2 linked regions of the Homo sapiens genome follow. The protein of the gene in region 1 purifies or fractionates together with the protein of each later gene. This does not show direct contact. Each region holds a gene or a part of one and is shown on either strand. Other genes may lie near its edges.

The links.
Region 2: the proteins of METAP1D (region 1) and CRAT purify together in Homo sapiens (affinity purification with mass spectrometry; one large-scale study listed by BioGRID and IntAct). This does not show direct contact.

The regions. Positions count from the first base shown.
Region 1 is NC_000002.12:172,006,316-172,010,133, reverse strand, and holds part of METAP1D (methionine aminopeptidase 1D, mitochondrial isoform 1 precursor), read right to left. Parts: intron 1-3,818. UniProt on the Homo sapiens protein: Removes the N-terminal methionine from nascent proteins. The N-terminal methionine is often cleaved when the second residue in the primary sequence is small and uncharged (Met-Ala-, Cys, Gly, Pro, Ser, Thr, or Val).
Region 2 is NC_000009.12:129,097,436-129,101,003, reverse strand, and holds part of CRAT (carnitine O-acetyltransferase), read left to right. Parts: intron 1-314; coding exon 315-493; intron 494-1,037; coding exon 1,038-1,138; intron 1,139-2,353; coding exon 2,354-2,473; intron 2,474-2,632; coding exon 2,633-2,755; intron 2,756-2,855; coding exon 2,856-2,991; intron 2,992-3,568. UniProt on the Homo sapiens protein: Catalyzes the reversible transfer of acyl groups from carnitine to coenzyme A (CoA) and regulates the acyl-CoA/CoA ratio. Also plays a crucial role in the transport of fatty acids for beta-oxidation.

The sequences.
Region 1 (3,818 bases):
AAAAACCCCTCCACAATTCTCTACAACCACCACCAACTGTCACTTTTCACAAGCTCCTTCTACTGCTAAATTTTGCTCCAAGCCGCCATCATCACTAGTGGCCAAATTCACTGATACTTAGTCATCCTGCAATTTCATCTTAGAGACTCTTTTCCCTACTAAGTTCTCTGTTCCTGCCAACTCCTCCTTTTCTGCTTTGATGCCCCTTCCCTTCCTCGGGTCTCCTTTCCAGCAAACCACCAGGTCATGATGATTTCTCCTCTGTACCATTTCCTTGGCATCCATCTCTCCCTTTCCATCCCGCAGTCATTACCCTAGTTCAGGTCCTTCTGTTTCTGCCATTATCTTCTAACTGACTGCAATGGCTTTCCCTCTCCAATACATTCAGAACACACAAGCAGCAGATTAAAATGGAGACACCATCTCACTTTCTTGTTAATCCTCTCTTACCCTACAGTCTTCCACTCTAACATTAAGGTATAGTAAGAGTTTCTTAAATTCCATATATTAGAAATGCTACTTCTGTCAATAGCTCTTCTATCTTGAATCTTGCAATCCTGCCTCACAATTTCAATGCTCCATGACGTTTCATATACTTTCAGAAAATTAAAGAAGTAGATACACAATTAAAAATAAACCCATATAAAAAAAATTAACCCATATAATGACCCGAAACAAAAATTCATTGGTCACTTTTGGAGGATAAACCTGTTACGGTAGTCTCCTCTTAGATAAGAGTTTCAGTTATCCAAGGTCAATCAAGGTCTAAAAATATTAAATAGAAAATTCCAGGCCGGGCGCGGTGGCTCACGCCTGTAATCCCAGCACTTTGGGAGGCCGAAGTGGGCGGACCACGAGGTCAGGAAATCGAGACCATCCTGGCTAACACGGTGAAACCCCGTCGCTACTAAAAAATACAAAAAAAATTAGCCTGGCGCGGTGGTGGGCGCCCCTAGTCCCAGCTACTCGGGAGGCTGAGGCAGGAGAATGGCGGGAACCCGGGAGGTGGAGTTTGCAGTGAGCAGAGATCGCGCCACTGCACTCCAGCCTGAGAGACACGGCGAGACTCTGTCTCAAAAAAAAAAAAAGAAAGAAAATTCCAGAAATAAACAATTCACAAACACACCGTTCTGCACAGCGTGATGAAATCTCACACTGGCCCACTCCATTCTGCTCAGGACATGAATCCTCCCTTTTGTCAGCAGGTCCACACCCTGCACACTAGCAACCCATTAGTCATCCACATTCTCTGCTTCTGACATCATGTCATGGCTTAGTGATCCAGGATCACCTGAAGCAGATGATTCTCCTTCAGACATGTAGTCTAAAACTACATCACAATGCTTTCTCATTCACCTCACTTCATCACGTAAGCATTTTATCATCTCACATCATCATAAAAAAAAAGGGGTGAGCACAGTGAAAAAGATATTTTGAGAGAAAGGCCACATTCACCTAACTTTTATTACAGTATATTGTTAAAATTGTTCTATTTTTAGTGATTGTTGTTAATTTCATACTCTGCCTAATTTATAAATTAAACCTTACCACAGAAATGTGTGTATAGGAAAAAGCATAGTACAGCACCGTGCAGGGTTCAGTACCATCTGTGGCTTCAGACATCCACTGAGGGTCTGGGAACATACCCCCATTGGATAAGCGGGGGACTATGGTATTTTAAAAACTGATAAATAAGGAGAACAAACCATTTAACTTTCCTTGCTGGGACAGGGCCTGTCAGGGTAATGAAATACTTGATGAGAAAGTTTCTCTTTGTAGATGTTTTCTAGCTGATAAATAAAGAAGGAGTAATTAAAATATTGTCATTTGTAAACTCCTAATGAGCCAGGTCATGATTGCCAATGGCCACTAATGTCTCCAATGTCTCCAGGCCACAATGTCTCCAGCAACACCACTATGAAGTACTTGTACCAAAAAATGTCTAACTTAAATCAGGCCTTGGATCTAACTACCATTTTATAGAGGAACATCTTCAACAAGCCCTGTGGAATATAATACCATCAGCAAAATCCACAAAATGCAAAGCTCCACAGAACCAATAGGCTAACCAGTTGCTTCAACAAATAATTTTCAAAAAAAAAAAAAAAGGGAAAGTAAACTTATAGATTAAAAAAAATAATAATATCCGGCTAGGCGCGGTGGCTCATGCCTGTAATCCCAGCACTTTGGGAGGCTGAGGTGGATCACTTGAGATCAGGAGTTGGAGACCAGCCTGGCCAACATGGTGAAACCCCGTCTCTACTAAAAATACAAAAATTAGCCGGGTGTCGTGGCATGCGCCTGTAATCTCAGCTACACAGGAGGCTGAGGCAGGAGAACTGCTTGAACCCAGGAGAAGAAGGTTGCAGTGAGCTGAGAATGCGCCACTGCACTCCATCCTGGGCAACAGAGACTCTGTCTCAAAAAAAACAAAATTAATATCCTTTTCCATCCATTCCAGCATAACTGGTACTAGAATTCCCACCTGTCTTAACCAATTAGACAAAATATGTGAAGCAACTATATCTTGGCACTGGATATTAGGCAATGCAGGACCATGAACCTTAAAAGAAAACAATACAACACATGAGCCCACACTGGCCTCAGCCACCCCCTAGAACTAACAGCAAAACACAAATAGATCCATCCTAACAGAGAATAAAAACCAAGCCTGAAAGAATCAAACAGATTTAACATATTGCCTGGCAGTTGTTTAAAACATATGTTAAAGAAAAACAACATAATCTCCACCAAGATATTATCTGTCATGCCACTTATAAAATTAAATATTACATGATTAGCCAGACATGGTGGTGTGCGCCTATAGTCCCAGCTACTTGGAAGGCTGAGGCAGGAGGATTGCTTGAGCCCAGGAGTTTGAGGTTGCAGTGAGCTATGATTGTACCACTGCACTCCAGCCTGGGTGACAGAACAAGGCCCTTCTCTTAAAAAAAAAAAAAAAAAAAAATTACATGACATGGGAAGCAGCAGGAAAACGTAATGTACAATAAAAAAAAAAACAGCAGTCAACAAAACAGAAACAGACTCTGAGGAGACCCAATAATAAAATTAACAGATTTTTAAAAAGCTGTTATAAATATGTATGTTCAAGTACTTAAAGGAAAAGATGAACATAATGAGTGAACAGGTGGGAAATCTCAACAAGAAATGGAAATTATAATGCAAATTCTAGAACTGATATGTACAACGTAAGAAGAAAAAAATGGCTCCCTATCTTTTAGAGATACACGGTAAAAAATCTACAGATGAAATAATATATCTGGAATGTGCTTCAAAATAATCCACCTGTGGGGAGGCAAAGTAACTGGGAGTATAGATGTAACAATAGTGGCCATAGGTTGATGACTATTGTAACTAGATGATGGCTACGTGGGAGTTCATTGTACTATTCTCTCTACTTTTGCATTATGTTTAACTGTCTCCATGTTCAAAAGCTAAAAAAGAAAATTCAGTCTCCGTAAAAACAAGCTGTTTCAGCTTAAAACTAGATGTTGTTCAAATGAAGTTCTGCATACACATAGTACTTCTCCCATCTTTGCCAAGTTCCCTAAGATATATAGCATCCACACTGATTTTTATGGATTTCTAATGCTTGAGGAAAGCGGGTATTTCATAGAAACTATAAATATTGGCCAGGCGCAGTGGCTCACACCTGTAATCCCAGCACTTTGGGAGGCCAAGGCAGGCAGATCACGAGGTCAGGAGATCGAGACCAGCCTGGCTAACACGGTGAAACCCCATCTCTACTAAAAATACAAAAAATTAGCTGGGCGTGGTGGCAGGTGCCTGTAGTCCCA
Region 2 (3,568 bases), on another chromosome or scaffold:
GGGTTCCCCGGCTGCCACACCAGCTCCCATGTGACCCCTGGGCTTCGGTTTCCTGTGTCTAAAGTGGGCCAGGTGTTGGGCCCTGCCTCGAGGAGTGCTGTGGGCCTGCAGGGTCCTGTTGAGTTCGAAGCTCTGAACCCACACCCTGCACTTGGTGAATGCCCTGGAGGGCCGGCGAGGTGGGGGGTCTCCTCATCCCAGAGAGGTACAAATGGGTCAGAAGAGCCCAGGGCAGGAGGCTGCGGAGGGGCTGGTCCATCTCTCCCACACCATGAGACCCCATTTTGCGTCTCCCCGCCCCATGCCACCTGCAGACAAGGTGAACCGGGATTCCGTGCGCTCCATCCAGAAGAGCATCTTCACCGTGTGCCTAGATGCAACCATGCCCAGGGTCTCAGAAGACGTGTACCGCAGCCACGTGGCAGGCCAGATGCTGCATGGGGGCGGCAGCAGGCTCAACAGCGGCAACCGCTGGTTCGACAAGACGCTGCAGGTGAGGCCCGGCAGGGCTTCGCCCACTCACACACACCTGAACAGGACCTCTGCAGCCTCGGGACTTCCTGCCCGTCCCCGGCCCTGCGTCCCCAGCCTCCTAGCTTGTAAAGCAGGCAGGAAGCCAGCAGGCTGGACGCTGCCGTAATTACCAGGCAGCCAGCCTGTCATCACCAGTCCTGCCTCTGGCCTGGAAACCGCTGTCACCCCCAGCACACCCCCTCAGCACCTCACAGAGAACCTGGGATCCGGGGTCACCAGTGCAATCCTGGCACAACAGTCCCTCTCCACACCTGTAAAATGGGGTGATGGTCAACCTCACCGGTAGAGTAGTTTGAAGGACTCAGTCAGGCACGCTGAGCGTGGGATGTGCTTAGCACACCAGGGCACCTGGTGAGTGTCAGCTATTGTTAATAACAGTAATAAGTCATCATAGCCCCTTGAGATGGCTTCAGAGAGGCCCTTGCCTCAACCAAAGAGTGGTTGGGTGAGGGGCCACCCCCCAGGGCCCTGGGGCTGACCGGGGTCTCCCTTCCCTTCCACAGTTCATCGTGGCAGAAGATGGCTCCTGTGGGCTTGTGTACGAGCATGCTGCAGCGGAGGGGCCCCCTATTGTCACCCTTCTGGACTATGTCATCGAGTACACGTGAGTACAGTCACATCTCTCGCCTAGTTCCCCAGCTTCTAGTGACAGGTGACACACAGGTGATAGACCAGCTTATAGAGAAATATCACTCTCCTTTGTGCCTGGGAATCTGTTTTTTTCCAAGGAAGCCAGCCAGATATGGTGGCTCACGCCTGTAATCCTGACACTTTGGGAGGCTGAGGTGGGAGGATCAATTGAGGTCAGGAGTTTGAGATCAGCCTGGCCAACATGGTGAAATGCCATCTCTACTAAAAATACAAAAAAAAAAAAAATTACCCAGGTGTGGTATCACATGCCTATAATCCCAGTTACTCAGGAGGCTGAGGCAGGAGAATTGCTTGAACCCAGGAGGCAGAGGTTGCGTTGAGCGGAGACTGTGCCACTGCACTCCAGCCTGGGTGACAGAGCAAGACTCTGTCTCAAAAAAAAAAAAAAAAAATTAGGCCAGGTGCAGTGGCTCATGCCTATAATCCCAGCACTTTGGGAGGCGGATCACCTGAGGTCAGGAGTTCAAGACCAGCCTGGCCAACATGGTGAAACCCTGTCTCTACAAAAATTAGCCAGGCATGATGGCGGGTGCCTGTAATCCCAGCTACTTGGGAGGCTGAGGCAGGAGAATCGCTTGAACCCGGGAGGCAGAGGTTGCAGTGAGCTGAGATCACACCATTGCACTCTAGCCTGGGTGACAGAATGAGACTCTGTTTCAAAAAAAAAAAAAAAAAAGTTAGCCACGCGTGGTGGTGGGTGCCTGTAATCCCAGCTACTCAAGAGGCTAAGGCACAAGAATCACTTGAACCCAGGAGGTGGAGGTTGCAGTGAGCCGAGATCGTTCCATTGCTCCAGCCTGGGTGACAGAGCAAGACTCTGTCTCAAAAGAAAAAGAAAAAAATTAGCCAAGGTGGCGGGCATCTGTAATCCCAGCTACTCAGGAGGCTGAGGCAGGAGAATCGCTTGAACCAGGGAGGCCAAGGTTGCAGTGAGCTGAGATCACATCACTGCACTCCAGCCTGGGCAACAGAGCAAGACTCCATCTAAAAAAAAAAAAAAAAGAAAAAAGAAAAAAAAGCTGAAGTGAGGGTGGTTTTCAGAACAAACTCACACCTCCCTGGGCTGGCCCCCTCCAGCTTCAGGTACCCATCCTCCCCACCCTGGTCCCAGAATGGACCCAGGCTCTAGAGGCACCAGCATGAGCCTGAGGCCCCGTTTACTGTGCAGGAAGAAACCCGAGCTTGTGCGGTCTCCCCTGGTGCCCCTGCCCATGCCCAAGAAGCTGCGGTTCAACATCACCCCCGAGATCAAGAGCGACATCGAGAAGGCCAAGCAGAACCTCAGCATGTAAGTGCCTGCCCCCGCCATCCCTGTGCTGGATGGGTGAGGCCAGGCCCTTGAGCTTGAGAGGCTCCTGTGCCAGCTCTGTCATGACACCCAGACCCTCCGTGGGGTTGGCAGGGGCTGCCGGGGCCTGCTCCTCACCTGCTCTTCCCACACCCCCAGCATGATCCAGGACCTGGATATCACCGTGATGGTGTTCCACCATTTTGGAAAAGACTTCCCCAAGTCGGAGAAGCTAAGCCCAGATGCCTTCATCCAGATGGCTTTGCAGCTGGCCTACTACAGGTGCGCCTCTGTGGCCCACCCATGGAGGAGGGAGGAGACCTGGGGGCAGGGGAGGGGGTGCCCGCCTCCAAGGGGCGTGCTTAGCCCCATTTCCCACCAGGATCTACGGACAGGCATGTGCCACCTATGAAAGTGCCTCCCTGCGCATGTTTCACCTGGGCCGCACCGACACCATCCGCTCGGCTTCCATGGACTCACTCACCTTTGTCAAGGCCATGGATGACTCCAGCGTCACGGTGAGAGGTCTGGGGCGAGGGTGGGTGAGCTGGGCCTGAGCCCCTCCCTCCTGCTCACTCAGTCAACACACAATAATTGAGCACCTACAGGATTCCAGCCCCATGGTGGGCACGGGGAATCTAACAGAAGCTGGAGCCGTGAATCTAGCTCTGAGCTTCCTGGGGACCAAAGAGGAAAAGGGAGTCATTCATTTGTTCATTCATTTATTCATTGGCAGTAAGCAACTGCCCTATGTCAGGCCCTGGCTGAGGACCAAGGAGTTGGTAGTTGCAATACTCGCTCTTTTTTTTTCTTGTTTTTTTTTAGAAAGAGTCTCACTCTGTTGCCCAGGCTGGAGTGCAGTGGTGTGATCTCGACTCACTGCAACCTCCACCTCCCGGGTTCAAGCAATCCTCCTGCCTCAGCCTCCCAAGTAGCTGGGACTACAGGTGCCTGCCACCATGCCCGGCTAATTTTTGTATTTTTAGTAGAAACGGGATTTCACCATGTTGGCCAGGCTGGTCTCAAACTCCTGACCTCAAGGGATCCACCTGCCTCGGCCTCCCAAAGTGCTGGGATTACAGGCGTGAGCCACCG